Homo sapiens: one gene and its partners. The protein of the gene in region 1 purifies or fractionates together with the protein of each later gene. This does not show direct contact. Each region holds a gene or a part of one and is shown in the gene's direction. Other genes may lie near its edges.

Region 1 (7,466 bases):
AGCCCAGGAGTTCGAGACCAGCCTGGGCAACATGGTGAGACTCTGTTTCCAAAAAAACAATTAATTAATTAAAAAAATAAAGAGAAACAAAGATGTGAAAATGATATAAAAGTTTCTAATGGTGAATCTGTTTACAAAATTTTTTGTTTTATGTTAATAAACATTATTTTAACTCAGTTTTCCTCCCTTAATAAACAGAGAGGCTTAAATTCAGAGAACATTAATGTTAGCTCTTGCCTCCTTTCACTACATTTCACCACTTAAATGTGAAAAATGCATTTCCTAGTTTTTGTCATTTATATAAAGCTACTCTTATATTGTGAAATTCTGGGCTCATGGCGTTATGTAAAATGGAAATCATTTTTATTTTGACAAATCTATACACTATTCGAAATTTTTTCAGCTCCCTAAACTGGGTAGTCTTCCTGGAAATTCAAGATTACTTCAGTTGCTGGGTAAGAGATGCCTCTCCATGTCCTCTATTATCCATCCTCTTAGCCCACAAAATGGGCTTAGAATTACATCATTTGGTAAATCCGGGACATGATAGCCAAGATACAAGGATAGTGGCTTACATTCACCTTTATAGTCTTGCTCCCAAGTATGTCCTACAGCATGAATCCTAGGTGTCTTGTGGAGTTTCCAGACCAAAGACAGCTCATGCAGTGAGTGCTTTGACCCAGTCACCTGAGTTTAGCTTCTGCCTAGATTTCCACATGAATAGATCTTGCTGTCCTGCCACTGGGCAGAATTTCCACAGCAAAAAGACAATTTACCAAGTATAGTCACCACTATCAGATATCTGAAGAATAATTTTATTTAAAGTCTTGTCTACTGTGCCTTGTCTACCTGGAAACTTGCCCAGCTAAGAGTTTTCTACATTAAGATTGAGTTTTTCTGTGCTCTCTGGACCTAGAACTGCAGCTGAGTCCATCTGCACATCTCCTATCTCACACTTTCTCATCAGTCCTTGTCTTGAACTAAGTGCCAGTTTTAGCCTTGATGTCAATTAACTAGTCCTGTCGCTCTAAGGTACTAATGATGCCACTTTCATATTACAAAAGTCATCACAGAAGGATAATTTACTTCTTAGTAATATGAAAGAAATCCAGAATGCTAATAACATATGCGTAATATTTTCTTGAATTTTTGTATTCCATTAGGCTAAAACAACTAGGGGAAATGGTCTTCATATATTTTTTCATAATGATTGGCTAATCACGATAGAGTATAAAGTAAATCAAAGAAACATAAAATAGCTTGGAAAGAACAAAAGAAATGCAATTTAAAAATGTTTAATGACACTCCACCTACAAACATTGTTTTACAAATGTATTAAAGTTAATTCTCTTTCTAAAATGTCTTAGACTAGTAATAGGGTTGGGGAAAAAAATCTCCCTTTCCTTCCCTGGGCTATAATTTTACTTTTTAGGTATGACTACTGAGGAATTTCTAATTTGGCTCATCACTTCAGTGGGAATTCAGTGCACATAAGGGGCACATATGTAATTGGCAACCTAATTTTTCTGCTTTCATCAAATGGTGCAATGCCAAATCTTCATTGAACTTGCCAGTTAAATGCACTTGGGAACCAAACAGCAGCAAGCATACATGAGATTAAAATGAACAAATTGGAAAGAGTCATTAACTTTTTCTGTTTTCCTATCACAACAAAAATTGTATCATTGAAAGTGTTGCAAAGTGGGGAATTCTACTTGAAACATTAAACAATCTTAAAAGAGAATAATTCATTTACTTAACTTCTAAAATGTGGTTCATTATAATTTATAAATGGGGTTTCTAGTGCAGATTTTTTTCAACAAAAATACAAAATCATTAAAATGAATAAACTTTTCAGGAGTATGTTTTAAGTTATATGTTTCACATGTCTTTCTGGTCTAGTGCATATAAATTCTAGCCTTTATTTGGAAAGAAAAATTGTCAGAAAATTAAGCAAGAAATGTTGGCTTCCTGTAATACCGTAATGAATAAAGGCAATTGACAGCTTTTCATGGTTCTCAGTAATTATGAATGGAACTGAGAGTGTAAAAATTACTATCATTTGTGGTTACCAAAAATGCCCTTGAAATATCTGGTCTAATATATAATTTTGAAGTATGCAATATACAGTCATAATCAAATTATTGTTATTAATGACAATTAAATAGAGAACCAGGACACTGAAAACACCACAAACTTGCTGAATATGATTGAGTATCATCCCTTTAGGAGGACATAACCTTTTAAAATGTCTGTTTACGGCTCTCAAACCACCTATGTATTCACTAGATGCAAATGTTCAGTAATATCTCCTCTACAAAATTTCGTTTTACAATGACACCAGGTTTCTTTCAGAAAGGACTGTGTAGGAAAGTTTTCTTTTTCCATTTATGAGTTCAAGTATGTTAAGACTTTTTAAATTGTTGACCAGCCCTAAAAAACATTAACATTTCATAAATCGCTCTTGCATTGTAAAAAGAAGGAGGGAGGTAGAAGAAAAATGCCAAAGGATTGTAGGTCAGCTTATTTCATAAACAAAAGCTCTAAGGAAAGTCCTGAGATTTTTAAGTAAGCCAGGCCTTCTGAATGGGACATGATATGGACAGTAGAATAAGACAGATTGAGTTCCATTGACATTATTTATTCTTTGTATGATCTTAGGTTATCTACACACACTTTCAAAATTTAACTTTCTTGGTCTGTAAAATTGAGGAAATAATAATAGCTGTCCCATAGGGCACACTATCAATCCCAATATGCTTTGTTAGTCCATTCATTTTTCCAGTGCTTAATCAAAGAAGCTTTAATGGCCTATATACTTATATTATTGATATATTCACGCACCTGTCCCAACTTGCTGTCCTTTCCAATATCACTTTGTTTTTATCACACTCCTTAATATCACTTCTTTGTTAGGTCTTGATCACATGCTTAAATCATTTTTAATGTTTGCTAAACTCTGTATGAGAGATTGAAGAATTACGAGACAGGAACATCAATGTGAAAGGGTAAAATATGTGGAGAATATATAAGGTGCCAGCATATGACAAAACCCTAAAGATGTACGATGGTCACAAGCCATGGAAGAAGATAGGACAACTGAATTGTCAACCTTGCCGCCTCCTCCGTAGCCTCCTAAATCTTATCTTCCTTTTGTCTAATTTATGAAAAATGTTTCCTATAATTGTCTCCCAAAAGCAGAGTTGTCCCCATGCTGTAATATACATTGACCACTCAGATTCATTTAAAAAATACATCTTGCTTTTATTCCCAATATAACCACATTTCAGAAGTTAGATCATAGCCAGTTAGATTACACAGAGCGTGCGCACGCGCACGCGCACACACAAACACACCTTGAAAAAACTGTAGATCACTTGATTTCTGGAAGTTTTTCTCAATACCTCAGTGCACCTGATCACAACATCTTGTAATCTGGGCAGAAGGTAAGGGAGGTGATGTTAGGCGTACAAACTTAATATTGGGGATGCATTTTCTACCTAGAAATGGTCCTACATTCTACCAGAATGGGTTAAAAACAGATGCGCGCGCGCACACACACACACACACACACACAGAATTAAATGCACTACATTTGCTGTATTGCCTGCTAAAGGCATAAATATACTGGAGTGGAGATAAAGAAGGGGATGGATGGGAAAGAGTTCAGTACTTAGTGTAAACCTGAAAGGAAATGAGGCAGTGCAAGGGGAGAGAGGATCAGGGGAAAATAAATTATGTAGGCAACAGAACCATGCATCAAAAGTCTTTTCGATTTCTAAACTGGCAAATTTTCTCCAGGGGACCATCAGTCAAATGATGTCAAATTGAGCTGATTCTCTTGTAATGCCTGTATTGTGTAGGGCCTTCCTTGTAGGAACACAAGTTCCACTCTCGGACACAGTCGCAGTGCTTGCATTATCTTACAGAATTGATTGCTGCAAATGGTTCCTGGGAGGTGTGACCTGCTTAAAGGAAAGAAGCTAGGTTTCTTTTCTTGTTACTGAGGAATGAAGACACTTGTCAGGATGTGAATTGTGTGGGTGAGAAGGAAAAGCGGCGAAAGAATCTGGTAATTCCTTCCCTTACAGGAGGAAGAGAAAAAAGATAACATCGGAACCTTGGAGAGGAGAAATACAGTGCATTTATTTCCAGCATCCCCGCAGTCACTTCACGTCTCTTCAGACTTCCCCTATTCTTTAGTCTTGACCTGCCTATGCACTTGAACTCCACATAAGCACTAGGATGGACTGGGGGAAAAGGCCAGGTCAGCACGGTGGGATACTGCTTCCCCTAAAATGAAAACTCAGCAGCGGGCCAGCAGTGGGTGTGCGCGCGTCGATGCCAGAGGATGCGTGCGTGGAATCCGGCGGACGCAGTGGGCCGGGCACCGCCCTCCAAGCCGCCCCGCCCAGCCCACCACACTCCTCCTTGTATAAAGGCCGCGCTTGGGCCCGCCCTCCTCACAGCCCCGGAGCGCGGCCTGCCGGGGAGGTGGATCTCGCGCTCCCCACACAGTCACACTCCGCGCACTCACACACTTGGAAGCGCCTCCCCACGTCCCTCCCCTGCCCTCCTCTTGCTCTGCTCTTCTCTCCCTCACCACAAATAGTCGCCGACCTACTGCCAATCCGCCTCTCCTCTCTCTCTCTCTCTGTCTCAACATGACTGACTGGGAAGCGGTGGCTCGGGCAGAGCAGCTCCGCTGGCGCAGGCAGGAGGAGCAGGAGGATTATTAAATAACGCAGCTGGACTCTGTGCAACTGGGAGTGGAGAGGAGCCCAACAGCCGAGAAGGGGAGGGAGGGCAGAGGAGGGGGACCAGGAAGGACACCCCCGTGCCCCGAAGACATAAATCCCTGAGTGCCCGGGAGGAGCCTTAACAAGCGCACGGAGCCCTCAAGGTAGTAACGCCCCTGGTGCCTCAGCGCTCAGCGGGTCGCGCGTCGCGTCGCCGCTTTGCGGGGCCGGCCGCAGGCGGACGCGGGGATGACCGCTCGGCAGGTGACCGCGCCGTGTCGGGGCCGCCTGCGAGCAGCGCGCGCCCAGGCCCGGCGTGCTCGGCGCAGAGACCTGGCCTTGCGGGCGGGGTGGGAAGGAGGCGGGCGGGCTCGCTCACCACCGGCCCGCGACTCCCAGTGCGCCGCGTGGCCATTTCCTCCACGCTGCTGCGTGGTTTGCTGCCTGCGGCCGCGGCGGCCGCTCCAGGGCGATGCGGAGCGCTGGCCAAGGCGGCGAGAGTTGGCGCAGGCTTCGGGTCGCTCCCCTTCCTCGCCACTCGCGTCCCGCAGGTAGAGGCGACCGGTCAGCGCTGGCGCCCCGGGCTGCGGGTGCTGAGGCGGGGACGGCGGCGAAGAGGGGGAAGGGGAGGAGGGGGCGGGGAGCCAGGGGCTCCCGGAGGAACCGCAGTGCGGGGCCGGGACCACCTCTTGCCTCCGCCTGCTTGTCCTCTGGCGCCAGTTTCCTGGATTGGAAGCAAGACCCTGCCCAGAGGCAGCAGTAACGGCAGCGACTTAGATTGAACCACTTGCTTTGTGGTGGAGCGTCAAGGGCCCCAGGTTGTGTGCGTGTGTGTGTGTGTGTGTGTGTGCGCGCGCGCGCGCGCTCTGGACTAACCAGTGGGTTGGTTCACCTGAGCAGAAAGTCAGCCGTAAGCTGAAACCGCATGTGGCCCCCTGGCCCCTTCGACTTTTGGCTTGTGTCCCAGGGACTCGTACACACGGTGCCAGCAAGGGGTAAGGGTGACGGAGGGATTTGTGAATGGTGCTTCTGCGTGCGTGGAGGCTGAGCCTTGCTGATGTAAAGGAGGAGGTATCCAGAGTGAGAAGAAAGGCTATTTATGGCAAAGAGTTGTGAAATTTCTTGGGGTTTCCTTTTAGTGTATCCTGAACTGCTCTCTTTCTCTCTCTCTCTCTCTCCTCTCCCTGCCTCAGAATTAGAAGCAATTATGCTTCCCCTTCCTCTCGTGGGACATGGAATATGAAATGAAGTAAAAAAAAAACTCATATTTTTACAGGTAGAAAAAAATACTTCTTAGAAGTTACAGATTCTTTGCCCTTTAATGTTTTTATGTCCTCTTCTCCACCCCTCTTACCTTTTCAGGCAGTCAGTAGGACTTACAAGTCAGAAAATACCTACTTGGTTTCAACAGCTTTCATTTCTGAAATCTTTACAGTTGAATACCTTCCTATTGAAATGTAACACACATCCTCCCTTCTCTGCCCCTCAAGGACTATTAAAAATAATGTGTACACGTTTAAAGTAAAGCTGGTTTTATTAACAGCCTTAGGGAAAACGGATAAGAGGACACCTAGGTGGGGGTCAGTTATCACTGGTTCCTTCAAAACTGGTTATTAAGGGAAGACCTAAAATACTGGTAATCTAGGCTATAATATAATTTGTCTTGGTTTCTCTTTCTGTTTGCTTTATAACAGGTACATGTTCCAGATACGTAACTTGAAACTTAAAGATGCCTTGGGACAGTGCCTGTCACGGTGCTTATAAAATGAATGTTTTCTCTTAAAAGTAGCAACCTGTACTTTTATAGAACTGTGACTGGGTTTAGTAGTAGGACAGTATCCTTAATATTGCAAACTGAAATGTCTCTAAAAGCCTGCCAAGACAATGTTTTTCAAATATTGAAATTCCATGTTGTAACCACACTTTCAATAGTTTCACAGAGAAAAAAGAGAAGTTGGTCAACCTATTGTCAGAGTGATTTGTCTTCATTTAAATTAATTAGTTATTTTGATCAAAACAAACCAACTGTTGTTTGTATTGTTTTATTGCTTTCCTAAACAGTCCTGTTCTTTGAAAAACAAAGCAGAGTTAAGGATTTGATATTTTGATTTTGTTAGATTTATATTACTTTGAAATACATTTTCAACACGGAAGCATGTGCAGCTTTAAATATTAGGTTAGAACTCAGATGGAGAACCCCATTCGGAGGGTTATTACCTCAACTATCCCAAACTATTTGAACATAGATATAATAGGGAATTAAAAAATGTAATTGATGAACTGTATTATTGCAATCATTAAAAGTCCTATTTATGAGTATTTTGTTTTTTGACAGTTAAGAGAATCAGCAACTGTTTATTATTTTAAAGATACATTATTTATACCATAGAATGTTAATTTAGATAAAACAAAGTAGAAAATGAAAAATTTGTTATATTTTTACAGTAATAGTTATTCAACCCTTTATTGCATTTTATTACTCATCATAATGCTCATAATAAAGGGCCTAACGTTTGCAAAGTACTACTGTCTAGGCATTGGGGAGGAACGGGAGATTCCTTGTTCCCTGTCTTTCAGGAACTTACTTGCCATGTGGGAGGAATCTGATGCTCATGCTTGAGCGTAGAGTTAACAACCCGTAACAATAAGAGATTACATGTCTAATGAGTACTACAGGAGTTCAGAACATGACAATAACATTTCATACTGGATTTTGTTTGAGAATGC
Region 2 (7,027 bases), on another chromosome or scaffold:
ACCCGGGAGGTGGAGGTTGCAGTGAGCTGAGATCGCGCCACTGCACTCCAGCCTGGACAACAAACCGAGACTCCATCTCAAAAAAAAAAAAAAAAAAAGAGTGAGGTGCTTTGAGGATTCTCACCTGTCAGTGGTTGCCAACAGAATTATGATACCAAGAACATGAATTGTTTTAGGGTCTTTGACTTAGTGCATTTCCCCCACCTTCATTAAAGAGATACCCGAGTCTGCCTTCAGCTATTTAATACTTCCGCAAGATGGTTTTAGAAATGTGCTTTTATTTTAATACAACTACCCTTCGATGCATTTGTTTATTTGATTTCCTAGGACCTGATTCCTTGGGCATCACTTTCCAGGAAGCCAAGTGGGCCTTGGTGCAGTGCAGAGGTGGCCCTCCCCGAGGTCAAGACCAGGAAGCTGCTACCTGTTTATCTCAGGCACCAGGCTAACCACATACTTTGCTTAGGCCTTTAGCAGCCAGGAGGTGGGGGAGTGCACTTGGCCATAGGCCATAGCCAGCCTGGGGCAGTTCATCCTCATCAGGCTTCGAAACCCCTTTCCCTTTTTGTATTCTCGGAGCAAGCAGGAGAGGGGCTGTGGTCTCTGGAGGGTCAGGGAGGTGACATTGGCCACCAGAGCAATGACACACATGGCTGTGAGTGCCCGTAGGAGCATGAGCCCCAGTTTCTGGGCAGTTTTAATTGGGGGAAAAAATCCCTTTGGGCTGAAATCATATCAGCATTGTGATTTCAAAGGCAGCATTTTCAGAGATCAAGCACTTTTTCCCTGTAGTTTAGAAATTTCTGTTCTCAGAACTTTGACCTTCATATAATCAGAAAGCTCAAAGCACCTCGCATAGGCGAATCTCTCTCTCTCCTTCTCGCTGTCCCTGAAAAGCAGACAGTGAGCAGCAGGAGCAGTAATGTCCCAATTTTCCAGATGAGGAAATTGAGGTGCAGAGAAACTCAGACGGGTGTCTCCGGGTCTCTCAGGGGATCACACACCCTTCCTCCCTTAGGAAGCTGGCATTTCTCAACATCTGAAAAAAACGTGAGAAATAATCCACTAATACAAAAAGCTGCTTGAAAGCGACAACGCACCTGTGTTTGACAGTGTATAGTGAAGTAGCAATTAGCTGTGGGTATTGGGTTCTGAGAGCTGCATTCTATCAGGGAGGAATATTTGTGGCATTTGTTGTTTTTGCTGTTGTGTGTTTTTTGGTTTTGGCTTAGATAGTACTTGAATTGTGGATTTCAGTTTTTAATATGGTGAAAGTGTGAGATGGTAGATAGGATTATCAGTGCATGCAGAACAACCTCTTAGAATGTGATAGCCAACTATTAGATTTTTAAAAAATGTCTTGCAAAGATTCAGTTCCTCTGACTTAGCAAGTAAGTAGTGAAGGAAGCTAAACAGTCTGCCTATCTCATTTTAAAAACTGGGTTTTCTCTTCTGACTGACAGTGTTGCATTGATGAATCATAGCTGTTGCCCCAATGTCATTGTGACCTACAAAGGGACCCTGGCAGAAGTCAGAGCTGTACAGGAAATCAAGCCGGGAGAGGAGGTGAGTTCATGGCTATGGGTGGCTGCAGCAGGGGGCTTGAGACTGCTCTTTAAAAGGCAATGTGGACAGATCTGTGCAGTGTCACTTGACAGTATGAGTTGTGAATGCCTCCAGCAGTTTAGCTGAGTCTGCCCTCAGGCTCTCCAGGAGTCAGTGATCAGATTTGTAACCTGTAGTTTAGATTCCCACACTTTGGGGCTTCTGTTTGGTACATACATTTCCATCTCTGGTCAAGAAAAACAGGAAGTAATAAATTTGAGTCAAATTTGTCCCAAAGCTTTATAGAGATTTACAGAGAAAGAAGACATTTACTACCAAAATGACCACAGTCAAACTTTTGATTATCTTTAGAGTCTCTGTATCCCTATTGCCAAACAACTGAGCTTGAGCCTTATTTTATTTTATTTTTTTTGGTGAATTCTTGCTTGTTCCCCACCATCCCTCAAAGGTCCAAAGCAAAAGAAAGCAAGCAACGCAGCAGTAGCTAAAGAGCTGGCACTCCAAGGGACACATCAGAATTTCGTGTTCTATCAGTTCCACATCTGAACTTCAGGTCGCAGTTCACTTTTTAGGAATCTAAATCAAAAGTCCAGGTATATGCAGTAATAGGAGAAGTCAAGGCAGTCTGTGGCCAAGGGGCACCTTAGTTTCCCTCCTCAGCTTCAGGACGTGGAGAGAACCAGTCTTCCCATCACCTGCTCAGCGATTCCCTGTTCCCTTCCCATGTGTGATTCCTGACTACCTCATGAGACGTCTCACCTGGGAAGGGCTGGCCTGATGGATTGCTGTAGTATGCTCTGTGTTCTTAAGTAAATTCCCAGCAAGACACATGAGTTTTTAGGAACTTGTAATCACACTTGGGTTAATTTCAGTTTAGCAATTTGTAATGCTATTTTACGGTGCATGCCTGGGTATTTGAAGTGTGAAGTGTAAAATATAACTGTCAGCGTGCTGAATGACAAGTGCTTTGCTTTCTCTGGAAGGCACTCACTAATCCACAGCTGCACTGGGAGCTGAAGCCCAAGATGCAGGCAGGTTGGCCCTTCTACCTTCAGCTAAATCCATTACGATGAGGGTGTGTCCCCTTTCGGCTGGGGTGTCTGAGTTTCCAAAGGTCTTATGGAGACTGCTCTGAAGCCTTTCTTGAAACAGATAATTGCAGCCAGTCAGAATGCAGTCACCCAGGCTCCAGTGCACCTGTGGGCTGACTGCAGAGATGAGCAGGTTGTCACCTAAGCTGGCTCAGTCTGGCTGGGAGCAGTGGTACTGGAGTGGCCTTTGTCGCCATCTTCTGGAAGCTTCCGCATGTTGCACTGTGAGTCAGTCATTACAGAGATTGTTGGCAGGCTCTTGTGGTGTGAGGCAGGGCAGGGGTGGCTGCAGTTTCCTTTTGCCCTTATGTTCTCCCAGATCTGAAACGCAGTAACCTCATTTTTGGGAAGTCAGTGCTTTGGGGATTACTTACCCTTCAGAGAAGGAGAAACCCCATTCCCCAGGGTTTCGGGGTGAGCTGCAACGTGTCCAGTACCTCCCCATGGGCTGGGGAGAGCTTAGCTGCCCCTGCAGCACCCAGCCCTGTGCGTGTCCTCCCCTGCCTGCCTGGTGGTGCCCGTGGTCACTGGCACGCTAGCGGCTTCATGAGATCCATCTGTTCAGTCAGACATTTGCCTGATTGTGTGGGATGAGTAGCCAGTGCTGTCCCAGTGAGTAGATAATGGACATCTAAATGCTGGTCTCCTCCATATGCTCCAAGCCTTAGTTACAGACCCCATTAGGAAAAGGCAAGGACGGTGGAGCCCCATGAACCAAAGGTAAGGACTTTCCAAGCTCGCTGCCCTGCAGGATCAGGAGCTGCCCGCTGGGCCAGGCCGCAGCATTCTGGTGTCCTAGAAGATGTGTTCACCCTCCGCTGGCCACCCAGAGCTGTGGGTCCCAGCCCACTGAGTGGAGCCTCTTGCTCCATTGCCAGTTGATGTGAGGAGAAGGGGAGCTTAGCTGCATGTGTGTGGTGTGTGCGTGCTCATGCCCTCCCCTGCACGCAGCATCCAGTGATGACGGCAACGAAGCATTTGCGCCGTCTCAGGTGGTGAAACATGAAACTACATGAAGGCCAGGCAGAGGCAGCTGAGGGAGGCAGGGATCCTCTGAACCCTCCAGGACACTGTTTTAAGGACTCCTTGATTCTACAGACTCTTTCCACTAACCTGCACCTTGGCTTCAGCTCCCAGTTCAGCTGTGGATTAGTGAACACCTTCCAGAGAAAGCCAACGTCAGGTGGCTGCTCAGTTCAGGAATTCCGTGCCTTAAAGTAAACAGCGCATTCCTCCGCTGCAGCCCGCCTTATCCTCTGCATGGGCCCTGCAGGTGACTGCAAAGGCACGGGAATGACAAGGATTGAGTTTACCTGTAGCAGACTGAAGCTTTATCTTTTTGGACCCCGTAGGTTTTTACCAGCTATATTGATCTCCTGTACCCAACGGAAGATAGAAATGACCGGTTAAGAGATTCTTATTTCTTTACCTGTGAGTGCCAGGAGTGTACCACCAAGGACAAGGTAAGGTTGTTCATTGGGCAAGAGCGCTGACTGCACTCTGATCTCAGGACCTCTCTGCTGAAGAGCTTGTCTGACTTGGCGGATCTCCTCTAGGATCTTTTTGACCCTTTAAACCCTCCTTACAAAGACAGCCAAAGGGAATCTAGTTAGACCAGGTCTCTGTTCAGACCTGCTCCTAGTAGCTAAAGAAAACATTTCCATTACACTGTACAAACAGGAGAAAGGTCTGCCGAACTGCTCTTTCTTGAAAAGAAACAACTGCTCAAAGGAGGAGGGGGGAAAAGCACATGAGTATAATCTCTAGGCTTTCCAACCTGTTCACCAGAATATGTGGAAGTTTCCCTGGCATTTTCCAAATTGTTCCGTCAATGCCATCCTTCCTTATTCTAGTCTCTTGATTCGTAGATGTGTAAACACATATATCTGCCCATAGCCAACACATTTTAGATAAGGAGTATCTAGAAAATTAATCTTTTTGTTTTGTTTCTGTAAAAAGGTAATGGAGTACTGAATTTCTTCAGATGCATTGCCTGATTTCCTTTCATTCTTTTGTAACCTTGGAATGGGCCAGTGTCGACCGCTGTGTGGGAATGTGTATTATATGAGAGGTTTCCCTATCAGTGTGGTTTCCATGGGCGGTAACGCCTTGCCCTTGTGGACGTTTCCTTCAGGATAAGGCCAAGGTGGAAATCCGGAAGCTCAGCGATCCCCCAAAGGCAGAAGCCATCCGAGACATGGTCAGATATGCACGCAACGTCATTGAAGAGTTCCGGAGGGCCAAGCACTATAAATATATCCTTTACAACTGCCCTGATAGCTTATTATCCCTCGCCAACAAGGCAAGGTGGGAAGTTGGAAAGAGGGAGCAGGAGAAGGATGGATTTAAGATTCTGAAAACCAAAGGAGGAATGTCTCCTAGTAAATGTGTAAAGGCGTACTGACCACCCACAATGTGGTGTCCATCCTGTTGGAGTTGTATGATTTTATTTCCCCTTATTTTGGCTAGTTTGGCTGGGAGCCCCATGTGGTGGAGGACCATGAAGGACAGAGCCTTGATGGCCTTGTGCTTTGGGTATTTTACTTTGGGCAGGGCACAGTGCCAAGGGCCTTGCTTATTTCAGCTCTCCTCACTGGCACACTCTGAGCAGGGACTCTGCTCATTCCCATGCAGCAGATGAGGAAACAGCCTGATAGATATTAAGTAATTTGCCCAAAGGACACAGCTGATGGTGATAGGATCTAGGATTTTGTCCCAGCTCTATCAGAATCCATATTCTTAACCATTGTATTGTAGCATTTTCTTGGGAGTTGAAAAGGGATTCGATTTGTACTCTAAAGGGTAGAATTTAAAACCAGTGAGAGGAAATGAGAGAAAGGCACATTGTTTCTCAGCATAAGAAAGAACTTTGCCACAGTGGGAGTCGTGCTCAGGGTTCCAACTTGGGTGAGGATTTGAATTTGATTAGAATCGTGATTTTAATCAACATTGTTTACATCAGAACTAGGGGTCTGGACCCTGCGGCTAAAATTCTTGAGTTGAGCGGTTCCGACCTTCAGGTTTTCTTCATTTGTTTTTTCTGGAGAAATGTAATTCCTTTCACTTTTGCTTGGCTTTCTGTAAGTTACTTTTTCATGGGGTAAGGGTGAGAGTGGAGTGGACGAAATAACTCCTTGAACCCAGCCTGGGGAAGCCTCCAGGCAGCTTGGGCCCGGTGGCCCTTTCCTTGACTCCACAGCACCCCCTAGTGAGCTGCTGGAGATCTGCGAGCTCAGCCAGGAGAAGATGAGCTCTGTGTTTGAGGACAGTAACGTGTACATGTTGCACATGATGTACCAGGCCATGGGTGTCTGCTTGTACATGCAGGACTGGGAAGGAGCCCTGCAATATGGACAGAAAATCATTAAGCCCTACAGGTGATTGCAGAGGCTGTTCTAATCATCCACGGAGTGGAATTTGGTTGTTTAGAATGTATACGATAGTGTCATCTTCCTGCCCATTGCTGAGACTTGCCTAGCGCAGCTGCCTCTTCTCTGCACCCACATCTGGAGGTGCTGGTGCAGGGCACTGCTCCCGAGTCAGGCCTGTTCTCACCATCATCCCAAGGAGACAGGTTGAGGTTATGCAGCGGATACTGGGGCAAGATCCCTCCCAGGTCCATCCAGGGCCATATCCATAGTAGTTAACTCAGGCTAGTTTTGAGAAGCCACTAGTTTGCTTCTTTTCCCACCCACTGCTTCCAAGTTTAATTACTAAGTGGTGGTCTCAGAAACCCTGGTTTTCATCATTACTCACACCATCCCCTTCTTTTGCTTTTTCAAATTACAGCCCCAGTTTGCAAATGGGGAAGCTCTGGGACCAGTGGGTTGACCGTGGTTATCTAATCTCCCCACCCCAGGTTTGGAAAAAAGAAACAAAAATTGCTTTTTAATTTGTAGTAATAATGAATATTAGCCCTGGAGAGATTTCCTGCCTGAGAGGGTTACTAAACCTAAAAGTGGGTGACAGACGGAAGTTGTGGCTTTGTCCTCTGACTCGGACTAGACACTTCAGGGCTGAGGTGGCCTAGATGGGATCACTGGAGCTCTTTTTAAAGGCACTGATATTATGCATTTACAGGGTACGTCCAACACCAAGTGGGCCAAGTGAATCAGGGTCGCTGGGCATTAGACCCAGAAATCTGTGTTCTGGAAGCATCCCAGGTGTTTCTCAGGAGTTTGAGAAGCCCTCAGTCTCCTTCCACTTCCGAGATTAGGGTCTGTGAAGGTTGTGTCTGGTCTGAATGTCCACTGCCCACTCCACCCTCTACTTACCCCACTGTGCCCTGATTAGCCAGCAGGGGGAGCCCAAAGGAAGCCAGCTCTTAAAATCTGCTCTTGGAAACAGAATTTGTTAAATTGGGGATAAAC
Region 3 (7,027 bases), on another chromosome or scaffold:
TCAAAAATATTACTACGTGATGATTAACAATTTTGCTGTAGGGCAGAAAATACGCAAGAGGAACTCCGAGAATTCCAGGAGGGAAGCCGAGAATATGAAGCTGAATTGGAGACGCAGCTGCAACAAATTGAAACCAGGAACAGAGACCTCCTGTCCGAAAATAACCGCCTTCGCATGGAGCTGGAAACCATCAAGGTGAGGGGCTGAGAGGAAGTGTGCTCAGGTGTAGACAGGCGTCCAACACAGGCATGGCATGCTTGGCTGGAAGAAGGAACCCTGCAATGAGGGACTCCAGACCCCAGGCCCATGCTCATCTCTGGAAGGGCCTGTGCGGCAGACGTGATCTTTGAACTCTTTGTGCCTCTAGTGGGTGGTGCTTTTTGTTTTGTTTTTTTTTTTTTTTTGAGATGGAGTTTCACTCTTGTTGCCCAGGCTGGAGGGCAGTGGCGCGATCTTGGCTCACTGCAACCTCCACCTCCCAGGTTCAAGTAATTCTCCTGCCTCAGCCTCCTGAGTAGCTGGGATTATAGGCGCCTGCTACCACGCCTGGCTAATTTTTTTTGTATTTGTAGTAGAGACGGGGTTTTATGTTGGCCAGGCTGGTCTCGAACTCCTGACCTCGGGATCCATGATGGGTGGAGCTTTGAGAAGCAAGTCACACACATGTTCCCGTGGACTTTCTTGGTTGTGTACACTGATTTTATAGGGCACATGGCAGGGAGACTTTTTTTTTTTTTTGAAACAGGGTCTTGCTCTGTTGCCCAGACTGGAGTACAGTGGCTGGATTACAGCTCACTGCACCCTGGACGTCTCAGGTTTAAGCAGTCCTCTCACCTGGGCCGGGCGAGGTGGTGCATACCTGTAATCCCAGCACTTTGGGAGGCTGAGGTGGGCAGATCACGAGGTCAAGAGATTGAGACCATCCTGGCCAACATGATGAAACCCTGTCTCTACTAAAATTACAAATATTAGCTGGGCGTGGTGGTACACGCCTATAGTCCCAGCTTACTTGGGAGGCTGAGGCAGGAGAATCACTTGATGGTTGGAGGCTGTAGTGAGCTGAGATTGTGCCACTGCACTCCAGCCTGGCAACAGAGCGAGACTCCGTCTCAAAAAAAACCAAAGTCCTTCCACCTGAACCTCGGGAGTAGCTGAGACTACAGGCATGCGGCACCATGCCTGGTTAGTTTTTGTATTTTTTATAGAGACAGGGTTTCGCTGTGTTGCCCAGGCTGGTCTTGAACTCCTGGACGCGAGCAGTCCTCCTGCCTTGGCCTCCCAAATTGCTGGGATTATAGGCATGAGCCACCACCTGGCCAGGGAGACATTTTTAGGGTATGGAGGTGTTGCTAGAGTAATATCATCAGGTCCAATATTGTAGCCCTTAGCTACATTTGGCTGTTGAAATTTAATGAATTAAAATAAAAACTTAATTCCTCAGTCACAGTAGCCACATTTCAAGTGCTTAGGAGCCACGTGTGGCCAGTGAGTTTCCTTAGTGGACAGAGGGGCTGCAGACCATTTCCTTCATTACCAAAAGGTGTGTTGCACTCTGCCAGTTCAGAGCAGGTTTCTCGACCTGGCTGCTGTTGACATTGGAGCCCGGATCATCCTCCGTTGGGAGGGACTGAGGTTTGCTTTGTGGGTTTTTTGTTTGTTTGTTTTGTATTTTTGAGATGGAGTCTTGCTCTGTTGCCCAGGCTGGAGTGCAGTAGCGCGATCTCGGCTCACTGCAAGCTCCGCCTCCCAGGTTCACACCATTCTCCTGCCTCAGCCTCCCGAGTAGCTAGGACTACAGGCGCCTGCCACCACGCCTGGCTAAATTTTTTGTATTTTTAGTAGAAACGGGGTTTCACCGTGTTAGCTAGGATGGTCTTGATCTCCTGACCTCAGGATCCGCCTGCCTCAGCCTCCCAAAGTGCTGGGAATACAGGCGTGAGCCACTGTGCCCAGCCTGTTTTTTTTTTGAGATGGAGTCTTGCTCTGTTGCCCAGGCTGGAGTGCAGTGGCACAATCTCACCTCACTGCAACCTCCGCCTCCCAGGTTCAAGTGATTGTCCCGCCTCAGCCTCTTGAGTAGCTGGGATTACAGGCACCCTCCACCACGCCTGGCTAATTTTTTTTTTTTTTTTTTTTGAGACGCAGTCTCACTCTGTTGCCAGGCTGGAGTGCAGTGGCGTAATCCCGGCTCACTGCAACCTCCACCTCCTGGGTTCAAGTGATTCTCCTGCCTCAGCCTCCTGAGTAGCTGAGATTACAGGCACACACCGCCATGCCTGGCTAATTTTTGTATTTTTAGTAGAGATGGGGTTTCACCATGTTTTCCAGGATGGTCTTGATCTCTTGACAGTGTGATCTACCCGCCTTAGCCTCCCAAAGTGCTGGGATTACAGGTGTGAGCCACCACGCCCGGCTAATTTTTGTATTTTTAGCAAGGACGAGGTTTCACCATGTTGGCCAGGCTGGTCTCGAACTCCTGAGCTCAGGTGATCCGCCCGCCTCAGCCTCCCAAAGTGCTGGGATTACAAGCATGAGTCACCCCGCCTGACCACACTGTGGGATGTTTGGCAGCATCCCTGGCCTCCACCCTCTAGATGCCAGTAGCATTCCCCGCACCTCCAAGGTGGTGAAAACCAAAAGCACCTCTAGACATAGCCAGGTATCTGGAGACCCAGTGCTCTGCAAGGTAAAAACCATCCCTTCTGTACATGCTGTAGGGCTCAGCAAGGGATCACTAAGTCAACACCGTGCCCCAGAGACTGGCTCTCAGCCTTAGCTGCCAGCCAGCATCACTAGGCCAGCTTCATAAACATCCGACAGGCCTGAACCCTCTCTCCCCATCCCCATCTCCCCGCCTTGCTCTGAGATTCCATTTCTCAGTAAGTCTGGGTGGGGCCCTGGCATGTCTGTGTGGTTTTCTTTTTCTCATTAAACTCCCAATGTACATTTTGATGAGCTGCTTCATGGAAGAGTCAAAACTGTGTGTGCCCAGGGCTAGGTATGATGGACGGTGAAAGGGGAAGTGCTGGTTGCCTTCTTTGGGAAGACAAACCTAATGCCATGAAGCAGTTGGGGACGTGAAGCTCAGTCACAGAACTCTGATGTGGGGGCCTTTCAAGAGAAAAAGGACTGGCTGGGTGCGGTGGCTCATGCCTGTTATCCCAGCACTTCAGGAGGCCGAGGTGGGCAGATCACCTGAGGTTGGGAGTTTGAGACCAGCCTCACCAACATGACAAAACCCTGTCTCTACTAAAACTACAAAATTAGCTGGGTGTTGTTGTATGTGCCTGTAATCCCAGCTACTTGGGAGGCTGAGGCAGGAGAATCACTTGAACCCGGGAGGCGGAGGTTGCAGTGAGCCGAGATTGCACCATTGCACTCTAGCTTGGGCAACAAGAGCGAAACTCTGTCTCAAAAAAAAAAAAAAAGAAAGAAAAAGAAAGGACTGCATGGGTTGAGGGAGGCTGTGTGGAGGGTGTTTGTAGGTGTATGTGTTGCTGACACTTGGTGCTTGGGGAGATGGGGCTGAAGGAGAGTTGATCTGTACCCATCACAGACGTGGACAAGAATGGGTGTCGGGTGGACCTTGGCAAGCCCAGCTTTACTAATGTATAGGAAAGGGTGTGGGACCAACAAATGGATTGGGGGTTTGGGGCAGGGCGGAGGAGAGGTCCCAGACACGTTGAAGGTGGTCATTGAAGCTGAAGCTTTCTGTTGGAGACCACAGAGTGCAGCTGGCCGTCTGCAGATCCATCTGCCCCATAGGTGTTGTTTGATCGCCTTCAGGGGTTTTTGTTCAGCATTTCCCCATGAACGTTTTCCAGCATATAAGGCTGAAAGAATTTCCAGTGAATACCTGTGTATCCACCACCACCTAGGCTCTACCAATAATATTTCCCCTACTTACTTGCCTTTTATTATATATATTCCCCCATCCATCAAAATTTGTAAAGCTTCCTGTAAAAAGATGGATTTCTGGCCAGGCATGGTGGTTCATACTTGTAATCCCAGCCCTTTGAGAGGCTGAGGAGGGAGAATTGCTTGAGACCAGGAGTTCAAGGCCAGCCTGGGCAACATAGCGAGACTCTGTCTCTACAAAAAAATAAAAATAAAAAATTCATTGGACATGGTAGTGCACACCTGTAGTCTAAGCTACTCAAGAGGCTGAGGCAGGAGCATTGCTTGAGCCCAGGAGGTTGAGGCTGCAGTGAGCTATGATTGTACCATTGCACTCCATCCTGGGTGACAGAGCAAAAGTTAAAAAATAAAAAACCTGAGTAGTGGTTGTTTAGAACACACATTGTTGAGTTTCCCCCAATCCCCATATCCGTGACACGGAGACCTTAGTGTCATCTGCCTCTCCCTGTACTTGGCCCACTTCACCCATTTGTTAACAGCTGAACACCTGCTACACACAATGAGCAATGATTATCGTTCTTTTTGTTGTTGTTGTTTTTGCTGTTGGAGACAGAGTCTCCCCCTGTCACCCAGGCTGGAGTGCAGTGGTGTGATCTCAGCTCACTGCAACCTCTGACTTCCAGGCTTAAGTGATCCTCCCACCTCAGCCTCCCAAGTAGCTGAGATTACAGGCACCTGCCACACCACGCCTGGCTAATTTTTGTTATTTTTTGTAGAGACGGGTTCATGTGCCCATGCTAGTCTGGGACTCCTGAGCTCAAGTGATCCGCCTGCCTCGGCCTCTCAAAGTGCTGGGATTACAGGTGTGAGCCACTGCGCCTGGCTGATTATAGTTCCTAAATTGAAGGGGACTCTGGGTTGAAAAGCTGGGTAGGAGGAAGATTAGTGGTATGAACTGCAGTTTGGAGAGGATAACAGGCCCTCCATGGATCCTGAGTAAAATATCAAGAGAATTACTCAGTAATTCTCTGCTTCAAGACTGAGCTCTTGGGCCTGGCGTGGTGGCTGATGCCTGTAATGCCAGCACTTTGGGAGACCGAGGCGGGCGGATCATGAGGTCAAGAGATTGAGACTGTCCTCGCTAACATGGTGAAACCCCGTCTCTACTAAAAATAAAAAAATTAGCTGGGCATGGTGGCGCACACCTGTAGTCCCAGCTACTCGGGGGCTGAGGCAGGAGAATTGCTTGAACCTAGGAGGTGGAGGTTGCAGTGAGCTGAGATTGCGCCACTGTACTGCAGCCACATGTCAGATGCAGGAGACTCAGAGCACACAGCACAGTGAAGAAACAGGGTACCTTGGAATAACGAGGACCCTGCCACCAGCAAGTATTTGTCAGTCACCTAAGAGAAATATATTCAGCTGGGCCGGACTTCTTAACAACTGGCTTATTCATCACGGGTTGAATGAAAAAGCCTTTAAGGGACCAAACAGAGCATCTATTGATGCCCCCATCAGCTGACAGCTTATTCGAATTAGCCCCAAATGGCAGCACAACATTTCAGCAACAGGTTTTCATGTCCACAGGTTCCGAGGAGATCTCTCAATCGCCAGTGCAGTCGGTGGAGCCCACTCGCTGCGTCCTCCTGGAGCCTGCGTTTGAATTTAGGTTAATGACTTAAGATCCTGTTTTATTTGGAGATGTTCCCAAATAAAGGGTGTGAGGCGATGAGAGCCACGCCTGGGAACAGGGCCTGGTCTGCCTCTACTTGCTGGGTGCAGATACTTCTCTGCTTACAGCCAGGAAATGGGGAGGGTGCTGCGGGCGGCAGCAGGGATGTGGTCCGCCCTCCTCATCCTTCCAACGCTGTAAATCATCTGTTTGTTCTTTCTTTGGAGTCTTCTTGCACAATGGCTCTCGCCACGCCTCTCTGGCCTAGGCACCATTACATCACCCTGGGTGCATCCGGACTTTCTAGCAACGGCTTTGTTTACTTGATTGAGTAAAGAGAAGTTGGCCTTTTTTAACTTTTAAATTAGACCTTGCGCCTTTCTTGTGGGAAGTGTTTTCTCTTATGTTTGTAGAATCTAGGATGGGTGTTTTGTGTTTTCGGTTTTGATTTTTTTTTGAGATGGGGTCTCTGTCACCCAAGCTGGAGTGCAGGGGCACAATCTTGGCTCACTGCAACCTCCGCCTCCCGGGCTCAAGCGATTCCCCTGCCTCCCGGGTAGCTGGGACCATAGGCACTTGCCACCACACCCAGCTATTTTTTGTATTTTTGGTAGAGACGGGGGTTTCACCGTGTTGGCCAGGCTGTTCTCAAACTCCTGACCTCAAGTGATCTGCCCGCCTTGGCCTCCCAAGTAGCTGGAACTACAGCCGTGCACCACTATGCCGGGCTAATTTTTGTATTTTGGTTTCGCCATGTTGCCCCAGGCTGGTGATTTTTTTTTTTTTTTTAAGCGTTGGCCTGGGCTAGAGTGCAGTGGCATGATCATAGTTTACTGGAGCCTCAACCTCCTGGCCTCAAGCAGTCCTCCCACCTCAGCCTCCCCCATAGCTAGGACTGCAGGTGCATGCCACCACGCCTGGCTGTTCTTAAATTTTCTGTAGAGATGGAGTCTTCCTATGTTGCCTAGGCTAATATGCCTCTGCCACCTGAGGTGCTGGGATTGCGGCATGAGGCACCGCACCTGGCTCTGGGTGTTTGGTGAAGGAAAGTAATTTGGAAGCAGAGCAGGAATAGAATCGAGAGAGCACGGGAACGGGCAGGTGATCTGGATTGAGATGGTTTAGGGCTGGTTAGCATAATTGCTTAAGGACACCTGCTCAGGAGGCTGGGGTTTGGTCTTGGCCCAGTCATTTGCTACTGGTTGATTCTGGGCTAGTTAAGTAATTGAGTCTCAGTGTTCATGTCTCTGAAGTGGAATTAAACGAGACAACATAGGAAGTGTACTTAGCCTGGAGGCCAGCACAGAATAAGTATGTAATGGATGTTATTGCTGCAGCTGGCAACAGGGAATCATTGAGAAGTGCGCTGGACTGTTTCTTTGGTAATTAACAAGATCTCCCTCTCTGTCTCTCTCCTCTCCTTTTCTCTCCCTTTCCCTTCCTCCATCTTCTCCCTCCCTTCTGTCTTAGTTTTTGTTTGTTTGTTTTGAGATGGAG

What was found.
Region 2: the proteins of CCSER1 (region 1) and SMYD2 purify together in Homo sapiens (affinity purification with mass spectrometry; 2 studies listed by BioGRID and IntAct, with this or other methods). This does not show direct contact.
Region 3: the proteins of CCSER1 (region 1) and NDE1 purify together in Homo sapiens (affinity purification with mass spectrometry; 2 studies listed by BioGRID and IntAct, with this or other methods). This does not show direct contact.

Annotation. Positions count from the first base shown.
Region 1 is NC_000004.12:90,122,929-90,130,394, forward strand, and holds the start of CCSER1 (serine-rich coiled-coil domain-containing protein 1), read left to right. Parts: upstream 1-4,465; 5' UTR 4,466-4,903; intron 4,904-5,397; exon of another isoform or gene 5,398-5,557; intron 5,558-5,609; exon of another isoform or gene 5,610-5,734; intron 5,735-7,466.
Region 2 is NC_000001.11:214,326,159-214,333,185, forward strand, and holds part of SMYD2 (N-lysine methyltransferase SMYD2), read left to right. Parts: intron 1-1,463; coding exon 1,464-1,566; intron 1,567-4,009; coding exon 4,010-4,120; intron 4,121-4,791; coding exon 4,792-4,912; intron 4,913-5,859; coding exon 5,860-6,034; intron 6,035-7,027. UniProt on the Homo sapiens protein: Protein-lysine N-methyltransferase that methylates both histones and non-histone proteins, including p53/TP53 and RB1. Specifically trimethylates histone H3 'Lys-4' (H3K4me3) in vivo. The activity requires interaction with HSP90alpha.
Region 3 is NC_000016.10:15,667,245-15,674,271, forward strand, and holds part of NDE1 (nuclear distribution protein nudE homolog 1), read left to right. Parts: intron 1-41; coding exon 42-195; intron 196-5,164; exon of another isoform or gene 5,165-5,527; intron 5,528-7,027. UniProt on the Homo sapiens protein: Required for centrosome duplication and formation and function of the mitotic spindle. Essential for the development of the cerebral cortex.